Regions from separate parts of the Homo sapiens genome. Here region 2 is linked to region 1. The links come from fine-mapping of genetic effects on gene expression. Tissue or cell type: monocytes. Region 1 holds a variant in brackets; the other region holds the start of a gene. All regions are shown on one strand. Distances are from middle to middle.

Region 1 (4,937 bases):
CACACACACACACACACACCCCACAAGCAATATCTAGGGTGGTTGCAGGATAACTGGTCCCAGGAGCCCCTGTCCAGGTTTAAATACAGAATCTGAAAGCCCAAAAGATTTAACTACAGAGAATATATAGTCAGGGAAAGAAGGAGATCTTCATTTCATACAGATAGCATTAGACAGACAGCTCCATGAGGGTGGGGGGCATGTCTGTTGCATTCTTCACTACTCCCACATCCCAGCACAGACCTAGGAACAGAGGTGCTTATGAAGGACTTAAACGAAGTAATGTCAGTGAAGGTAGTGGAGTAGGGAACTCCACAACTCCATCCCTTCACAAAAACAGTATGTAAATGGGCAAACACAGAATCAACTTCATTGGAGCTCTTGAATGTCATCAAAAGTTTACAGCCACAGGAGAATGCCTAATCAAGACAAACAGCTGAATCTGGGTAAGAGAGATTTGTGACATTTTAACTGACTCTAGCTGCACACTCTATTCCCCATTTTGCCTTGAGGACAACAACCTGTGTTTCTAGTGCTGAAGGGAACAGAATGCACCTTATTCTCAAAAACCTGTGGCTGTTCTCTTCTGACCTGTCTGCTGGCTCCCTGATGGGCTGGATCAAAGGGCTTCCCTTTATTTGTGTAACTCCAAACTCTCCCAGGTCTGAAGAGGCTACACCTATGGAAGCTGGAGGGTGGAGAGGGAAGTGTGTCCCAACACATCTAAAGGCAAATCAGCCACTGCTCAATGGGGCAAGGGAAAACTGTGAAGCAAACAAAAGACTAACCAAAAAACCTGGGAGGAGAAGTTGGGAACAAGATGCTCTGAGGAGTAGAGCATCTTTCCACACCTTCTTTTCCCCCACAAGATGGAGTCTTGCTCTGTCGCCCAGGCTAGAGTGCAGTGGTGTGATCTCGGCTCACTGCAACCTCCACCTCCTGGGTTCAAGCAATTCTCCTGCCTCAGCCTCCCAAGTAGCTGGGATTACAAGCATTTGCCACCACGCCTGGCTGATTTTTTTGTATTTTTAGTAAAGATGTGGTTTCACCATCTTGGCCAGGCTGGTCTCCAACTCCTGACCTCAGGTGATCCGCCCACCTCAGCCTCCCAAAGTGCTGGGATTACAGGCATGAGCCACTGCGCCCGGCCTCCACACATTTCTAGAAGGCCATGCTCATACCCAGGGATGAACACATGCTCAGAGAAGATCTGAGAAGGCACCAAGCCCTCACCTTTGACTGACCTTCAGGCTCTGCATAAGAAGGAACTGAAGGCTAAGTCAGAGTTGTAAGATGCTTTAGCTGAGTTTTGAAGGCATGCTCCAACATGTAATTCAGATCCATTGGCAAAGACTGGTCATCTTTTGGGTTCCAGGTATTTAAAAAAATCTCTGACAAATTAATCCCAAGCTGAACACTAAGCTAACAGAACAGAGACTTCAGTGGCCACACATGACCAATACAGACGTTACAAAATTAGTTCAGAAATGTCACTAAACAAAGAAACAATACCAACTACAACAAACCTTGGGGAGGGGGGAAATCAGATTTAAAGAACTGCCATATTGTAATATTCTGAAAGTAGTTTTCAGCAAATAAATTATGAGGCATGTAAAGAAACAAAAAAATGGGCCGGGCGCGGTGGCTCATGGCTGTAATCCCAGCACTTTGGGAGGCCAAGGTGGGCGGATCACAAGGTCAGGAGATCGAGATCATCCTGGCTAACACGGTGAACCCTGTCTCTACTAAATATATAAAAAATTAGCGAGGCGTGGTGGTGGGCGCCTGTAGTCCCAGCTACTCGGGAGGCTGAGGCAGGAGAATGGCGTGAACCTGGGAGGCAGAGCTTGCAGTTAGCCAAGATTGCACCACTGCACTCCAGCCTGGGTGACAGAGTGAGACTCCATCTCAAAAAAAAAAAAAAAAAA[AG/G]AAACAAAAAATGAATGAAACTGCATTATAGGAAAAAAGAAATGAACAGAAATTTTCCATAAGGAAACCTAGTCATTGGATTTATTAGGCAACGACTTCAAATCAACTATTTCAAATATGCTCAAGGAGTTAATGGAAACTGTGTACAAAGAACTAATGGAAACCATGAGAATGAATTCTCACCAAATAGAGAAAATCATAAAGAGATGGAAATTATAAAAAGGAGCCAAATAGGAATTTTAAAATTGAAAAATATATATTATCTGAAATGAAAAATGTACTAGAGGGGTTCATCAGAAGACTTGATCAGGCAGAAGACACAATTAGTGAACTTGATGACAGGTCAATTAAGATTGCCTGATCTGTAGAGCAGAAATTAAAAATAAAGGGAAAAAAATGAACAGAGCCTAAGAAACCCAGAAGATACCATCAAACATCTGAATACACATAATGGGAGTTGCTACTGGAGAGGAGACAGAGAAAGGAGCAGAAGGAATATATGGAAAAATTGGCAAGGTGCAATGGGTCACGCTCTAATTACAGCACTTTGGGAAGCCGAGGTGGGAGGATCACCTGAGGTCAGGAGTTCGAGACCAGCCTAGCCAACATGGTGAAACCCTGTCTCTACTAAAAATACAAAAATTAGCTAGCTGTGGTGGTGCGCGTTTGTAATCCTAGCTACTGAGGAGGCTGAGGCAGGGAGAATTGCTTGAACCCAGGAGGCAGAGGTTGCAGTGAGCTGAGATCGTGCCAGTGCACTCCAGCCTGGGCGACAGAGTGAGACTCCGGGAAAAAAAAAAAAAAAGGAATATATGTAAAAATAATGGCCAAACTTTCCCAAATTTGATGAAAATTACAAGTCTACACATCAAAGCAGCTCAAGGATCTCCCAATAGGATACACTTAAAAACTCATACTGAGATACCTTAACATTAAACTGTCAAAAGCCAAAGACAGACTATCCTGAAAAATGGCAAGGGAGAAATAAGTCATCATGTACAAGATTAACAGCTGATTTGTCACCAGAAACCATGGAGGCCGCAAGCCAGTGGGATGATGACATACTCCAAGTACTGAAAGAAAAATATCAACCAAGAATTCTATCTCCTGCAAAACTATCATTCAAGATAGTAAAAAGGCAATCCACTGAATGGGAGGAAATCTTTGAAAATGATATATTTGATAAAGGTCTAGGATGCAGAACATATAAAGAACTCTTACAACTCAATAACGAAAAGGCAAACAATGCCCCCCAAATGGAAAAAGCACTTGAATGAACATTTCTTCAAAAAAGATGTATAAATGGCCAACAAGCACAAGAAAAGATGGCCAATCTCATCATTTTTTTTAGGGAATAGAAATAAAAACCACAATGAGACAGACAACCACAAGAATGGCTATCATAATTTTTTAAAAAAAGGAAAAGAGACAAATGTTGGTAAGGATGCAGAGAAACTAATACGTTGCTGGTCTCATGCACTGCTGGTAGGAATGTAAAATGGTGTAGCAGTTGTAGAAAAGTTTGGACATTCCTCAACACATTAAACACAGAATTACCACAGGACACAGAAGTTCCACTCCTAGGTATATACCCAAGAGAAAACAGGTGCTCAAGCAAAATCTTGTATATGAATGATCATAGCAGCACTACCCACAATAGCCAAAAGATGAGAACAGGCTAAATTTCCATCAGCTGATGAAATGATATATAAAAAGTGGTATATACACATAACGGAATAATATTCAACCATAAAAAGAATGAAGTTCTGCTATGTGCTACAACACAGCTGTACTTTGAAAACATCGGCCAGGCGTGGTGGCTCATCCCTGTAATCCCAGCAATTTGGGAGGCTGAGGTGGGTGGATCACTTGAGGCCAGGAGTTCAAGACCAGCCTGGCCAACATGGTGAAACCCCATCTCTATTAAAAACACAAAAATTTGCTGAGTGTGGTGGCGCATGCCTTTAGTCCCAGCTGTTGAGGAGGCTGAGGCAGGAGAACAGATTGAACCTGGAAGGTGGAGGCTGCAGTAAGCTGAGATCACACCACTGCACTCCAGCCTGGGTAACAGAGTGAAACTCCATCTCAAAAAAAAAAAAAAAAAAAAAGAAAGAAAACATTATGCTAAGCAAAAAGTGAGACACAAAAGACCACATTTTGTATGATTTCATTTATATAAAATGTCAAGAATTGGGCCAGGAATGGTAGCTCACATCTGTAATCCCAGCACTTTGGGAAGCTAAGGCAGGAGGATCACCTGAGCCCAAGAGTTTGAGACCAGCCAGGGCAACATAGCAAGACCCTGTCTCTACAAAAAATAAACAAATTAGCTGGGCGTGGTGGTCCGCACCTGTGGTCCCAGCTACTCAGGATCACGCCACTGCACTATAGCCTGGGTGACGGAGGGAGACACTGTCTAAAAACAACCCCCTCAAAAAGAAGAGACACATCTATAGAGACGGAAAGATTAGTGCCTGCCAAGATGTTCAGGAGGGAGAACTGGGGAGAGACCATTTCATGACTATGGGGCTTATTTTTGGTGTGACAACTATGTTCTGGAATTAGTGGTGATGGCTGTACTACACTGTGAACCTACGAAAAGCCACCAAATTGGACACTTTAAAATAGTTTAAATGGTGACTTTTGTGTCCTGTGTTACCTCAATTTAAAAAAAGAAAAAAAAGACTGACTTCCTGAGTCATTAAATAAATGCAGGAATGACATTAGGCTTACCCAGTGAGGCCAGGTTCCTGCAGTTCTCCAGCATCACGTCCCTGTACAGTGTCCTTTGGGCAGGGTCCAGCAATGCCCACTCCTCCTGGGTGAACTCCACGGCCACATCCTCAAAGGTCACCAAGCCCTAAAGCATTGCAAACATCACGGCTTAGCCAAGGACCACCCCCACCAATGTGCACAGGAAGAGGGGCCAGGAGAACAGAGCCAGGGCTGGGGAAACCTGAGCACGAGATGTGGGGGGATTCTGAGCTCCTCTCCTGAGGTTCTGAGCT
Region 2 (4,372 bases), 550 kb before region 1:
CACCTCACACTCAAATGCCACCCTAAATGGCAGATATTGAGGGTAAACATAGACCAGTGCTCACAATGAGGTGGGACACGGTGGCTACCTGCACCCTCTCTCCATTGTTCGCCACCTGTGGCCGGCACTGCCCTTGAGCCCTCCCCCTGGCTGACCCCTCTTCATCCACAGGACGGAGCACAGAAACGAGCTGGGACCCTCAGTCCCCAACCCCTGCTCACCCCTCAGGACCCGACCGCTCTCGGCTTCCGTCGGAACAGCAGCCCCCAGCCCCCGACACAAGCCCCCTGAGGGCCTGAGGCATCCTGGGTCTCACTCGGCCCCCAAAAACTGATAAAAGAATAAAACACTTAAATGAATAACAAGGAACTGAGTATATGTATATTTCATCAGGGGAGGGGCTAGGACTCCCACTTGGAGGCCTCAGGAGTTCTGCTGGGCGTCGCGAAGGAGCTTCTCCTCCCGCCGCTTCCGTAACCTCTCTTTGAATTCCTCTATCTCTTGAAGCTAGGGGTGGAGAAGCGGGTGGGACAGGAAGGGGGGAGGGGCACACACCTCAGAGCCGGGACCACCCCCCCCCGCCCACCTCTCCCACCACCCTGCCCCAGACCACGGCTTCAGGGTTCAGTGTCTTCACTGGAAGCCCCCTGCCAATTACAAAGGGGTCCGCGTGGGATCCGCTTCACTCTTCCAGGAGAAGGCAATAAGGAAACCATCTACTCCTCTGCTCTCGGTTCCTTACTCATGGCTGAGAGTAAAATGTTTCTTTTTGAGACAAAGTCTCACTCTATTGCCCAGGCTGGAGTGCAGTGGCGTGATCTTGGGCTCACTGCAACCTCCACCTCCTGGGTTCAAGTGATTCTTCTCCCTCAGCCTCCCAAGCAGCTGGAATTATAGGCGCCTGCCACCATGCCTGGCTAAGTTTTGTATTTCTGTAGACATGGGGTTTCGCCATGTTGGCCAGGCTGGTTTTGAACTCCTGACCTCAAGTGATCTACCCACCTCAGCCTCCCATGCCCTGGGATTACAAGCATGAGCCACTGCGCCTGGCCTAAAATTTTCATCTAAAACCCATCCCGGATACAAGAATCCAGCCTCCTCCATCCCTCTGGCAGGAAGAAGAGATCACTTACCTTCTCAGGTGGCCACAGCTCCCTCTGTAAGGAAAAGTCACAAATGGGACACGAGCCAAAGGCCTCCAGAGCCCCACATCAGGGCAGGGTCGGCTTATGGGAGGCAGACATTAGTCCCCAGCAGACTGCTGCCCCACACCCTCTCCCACCCCTGGAATGAACCCTCAAACACTCCTCTTATGCCCACCTTGCGCTGTATGACATCGTCCTCAAACCACTCGGCCTGATTGGAAACCCAGAACATAGCCACAGGGAAAGTGAGGTAGATTATCATCTGGAATGGCAGAGGGTGGGTGAGGTGAGCTCCCCCCAAGCAATGTGCAGAGGCTCCTCAGAGCCTGGGGGACCCATCCTACTGCAGAGTCCAGAAGCGCCTCGTTACGGCCGACCCAAGAATCCCAGAACTCCCACCAAGGGTACAGAAACCTCGCACCCTAAAACCTAACTCCTATAATCCAGGAGGCCTCATTCCTGAAAGTTCCCTCTGAGCTGGAGTCTTCCTCTCAAACACAGACAGACACACAGACGCCCCAGCTACAATCAAAAGCATCTCCTCGAGACCTCATTACCCATCCCCACTTAAGATCCCGGGAGCACCCCCAAACCCAGGAGGCGTCACTCTTCAACTCCACTTCTCGAAGTCTAGGAATCTCCCTGTCATAGACACCCACCCACCACGAGCCCGAGAGCTCCCCCAGGATCTTAAGTCTTCCTTCTTTAGAGCCCCCTTCTCAGCTCACCCCTCTCTGAGGTCCTTCCTCGGACCAGCCCTCTCACAGCCCCCAAACCCAGAAGCCCAAATCCGAGAACCCCCCCAGCCCAGCGTCCCCTCTCCTGGATTTCCAACCAGAAAGGTTCCTCTCAAATCTTAAGAGCTTTCTCCTTGGAGCTCCCTCTTCCTTTGAAGTCCCCCCATTTCCAACCTCATCTTCAGATCCAGGAAGATCCCCTGCCCAGCCTCCCAACCCACTCCTGTGTCCACTGACCCGAAATATCTCCAGCTTCACCCCCATCTCGTTTCTCCCGGTCAACAAAGCCAGTTCCGCCCAAAGCCGACCCTCCAGCAAGACAGAAGCTCACTGGTGTTTTGCACGCTCCATTGCTGAAGCTGATTGGCCAATGTGTATCCTGATGGCGCATCTTCTGGCGCCTCTATTCTGCTTCCGGTCGCTGGCGTCGTCGAAAAGAAGTCAATAACGTGGGCCTGTCCGTCAAAAATGATTTAACCAATAGAAAACGGGTCTGGCTCGGAGGGGCGGGCCGTCAGTGGTAGACGTCATAAGCGCGCGACTCTCTCCTGTACCTGGGCATCCAGAAAAATGGTGGTGATGGCGCGACTCTCGCGGCCCGAGCGGCCGGACCTTGTCTTCGTGAGTCCACAGAGGAGCCGGGGGTGGCCTGCGTTGGGGCATTGGGACCTGGACGCCGCAGGGGATCGAGGCTGGGTCGGCAAGGAGATTTAGGCCGAAACTGCCAGGCCAAGGTCTGGGAACCCTAATGGGCCAGAGACCGGATCGTCATGTCCGCACCGAACTGTCCAGGAGTAAAAATATGGTGTTGTATCTTCGGGTCTGAGTAGAAAACCACTGTCGAAGGGAAGCGTCTAGCCTCCCGAACCAGGGGCGGAAATGGGGGCGTGCAGGGAATGGGAGAGGAGGAAGATCGCATAACTGAACCTTGAGAGGTGAAGATCGGTGTCTGAAGTAAAGGCTTGCTTACGAGGCCAGGGTTCTGGTTTCTGGGATGAAGGCTTGGTTTTCTGGATAGCGGTCTCTAGGCCTGGACTGCAGCATGACAGTTTCTGGGGTGGTGGCCAGGCTAGAAGAACCCTGGTGATGTGGAGCTTGTCAGGCGATGGCCAGTGAAATACTTACTCTCTGGAGTAGAGGCGTGACATCTTCACCAGATTCTTGGTGTGCAGAGTTAAAGGCTTGGCTTCTGGTGTATAACTCCTCCTGTGAGATAAAGGCCTAGCTTTTAATTTCTGGGGCAGAGTTGAGCTAGACGCTGGCTAGTGGGATCCTGGGGGCGGGGCTAGTGGCTTGGAATCTGGACCTGAGAGCCCTGGTGGCTGGGGTAAAGATCTGGTCATCTGGGCCTGGGGTGGAGATGGGTCAGATGGTGACAGTGGGAGTCTGAGGGGCCAAAGGCCTGGTGTCTGGGAAGAGGCACGTTTTGAAGAAGTGGGGTCTGGTGTCCAGGACTGGCATCTGGGCCAGGGCCTTGGTATCTAAGGAGTCTGACCATCTGGGGCAGAAAGCGAGTGGTGATGCGGACTCATTCCTGGCCCAGAGCCCTAATGACTGAGAAGTCTGATGATTTGGGTTCGATTTTGGGTAGTTGAATTCTGAGGGGTAAAGGTCTGGGCCACTGTCTTGGTGTCGGGCATCTGGTTTGGTGCCTGGGCATCTGGTGACCTGACTTCCTTGGTGGGTGGTGGGATCTAGGTAAAAGTCCGGAGTTTGGACCTGAGCCCCAGCAGTGGGATGGTGCTGCACACAGGCTCTGAGGGTAGGCCTCTCTTCTTCCCATTCCCTGGCCCTGGCAGGAGGAAGAGGACCTCCCCTATGAGGAGGAAATCATGCGGAACCAATTCTCTGTCAAATGCTGGCTTCGCTACATCGAGTTCAAACAGGGCGCCCCGAAGCCCAGGCTCAATCAGCTATACGAGCGGGCACTCAAGCTGCTGCCCTGCAGGTGGGAATGGCTCCAGCTGCCCTGCCCACCAGCCCCCACCCCACCTGGTCCAGTTATAACAAAACTGCCAAGTGGGTCCCGGGTCCCGGGTGATTGCTTCGTGTTTCATCACTGACCTGTACATCCCTTGATGGGTCAGCACACCTTCTCTGATGTCCCAGTCTGTCCCTGTCATTGCTGAGACATGTCACCCCTCCCACACCCCTTCTTCCCACATTTGCCAACTGGGGCAGGGCAAATGGTTCTGGGGGTGTCCATAAAGCTGACCGATCAGCATCTGTCCCCTCCTATTCCCCAGCTACAAACTCTGGTACCGATACCTGAAGGCGCGTCGGGCACAGGTGAAGCATCGCTGTGTGACCGACCCTGCCTATGAAGATGTCAACAACTGTCATGAGAGGGCCTTTGTGTTCATGCACAAGGTTTGGGGCTCGGCGAGGGGATGAATCGGGAAGTGGAGCTCAGTCCATGGTGGTGGGTGGGGCGGGGACAGGGGCTGGGCTCAGCATGTTAGGGATGGGGGCTTGGATTCCTGTTGCTTC

Evidence for each region. PIP is the estimated chance that this variant, and not a neighbour inherited with it, causes the effect.
Region 2: it holds the start of XAB2, and the variant in region 1 is fine-mapped to the expression of XAB2 in monocytes (CEDAR, PIP 0.95).

The regions. Positions count from the first base shown.
Region 1 is chr19:7,076,233-7,081,169 of GRCh38, reverse strand. It overlaps ZNF557 (zinc finger protein 557), which reads right to left. Exons shown (of 8, transcript NM_024341.3): 5 at 4,663-4,789. Among named protein-coding and RNA genes, the nearest start is that of ZNF557, 9.0 kb to the right of the region's middle. RefSeq lists a silencer at 2,846-3,046. The variant AG/G (reference allele first, on the strand shown) is at 1,929.
Region 2 is chr19:7,627,608-7,631,979 of GRCh38, reverse strand. It overlaps XAB2 (XPA binding protein 2), which reads left to right and starts at 2,435. Exons shown (of 19, transcript NM_020196.3): 1 at 2,435-2,503; 2 at 3,682-3,830; 3 at 4,129-4,252. The coding sequence starts at 2,453. It overlaps PET100 (PET100 cytochrome c oxidase chaperone), which reads right to left and starts at 2,187. Exons shown (of 4, transcript NM_001171155.2): 1 at 2,120-2,187; 2 at 1,321-1,407; 3 at 1,134-1,157; 4 at 24-507. The coding sequence starts at 2,146. The coding sequence ends at 424. It overlaps PCP2 (Purkinje cell protein 2), which reads left to right. Exons shown (of 4, transcript NM_174895.3): 4 at 172-365. The coding sequence ends at 291. It also overlaps a transcript of STXBP2 not described here. RefSeq lists enhancers at 2,094-2,143, 2,404-2,523.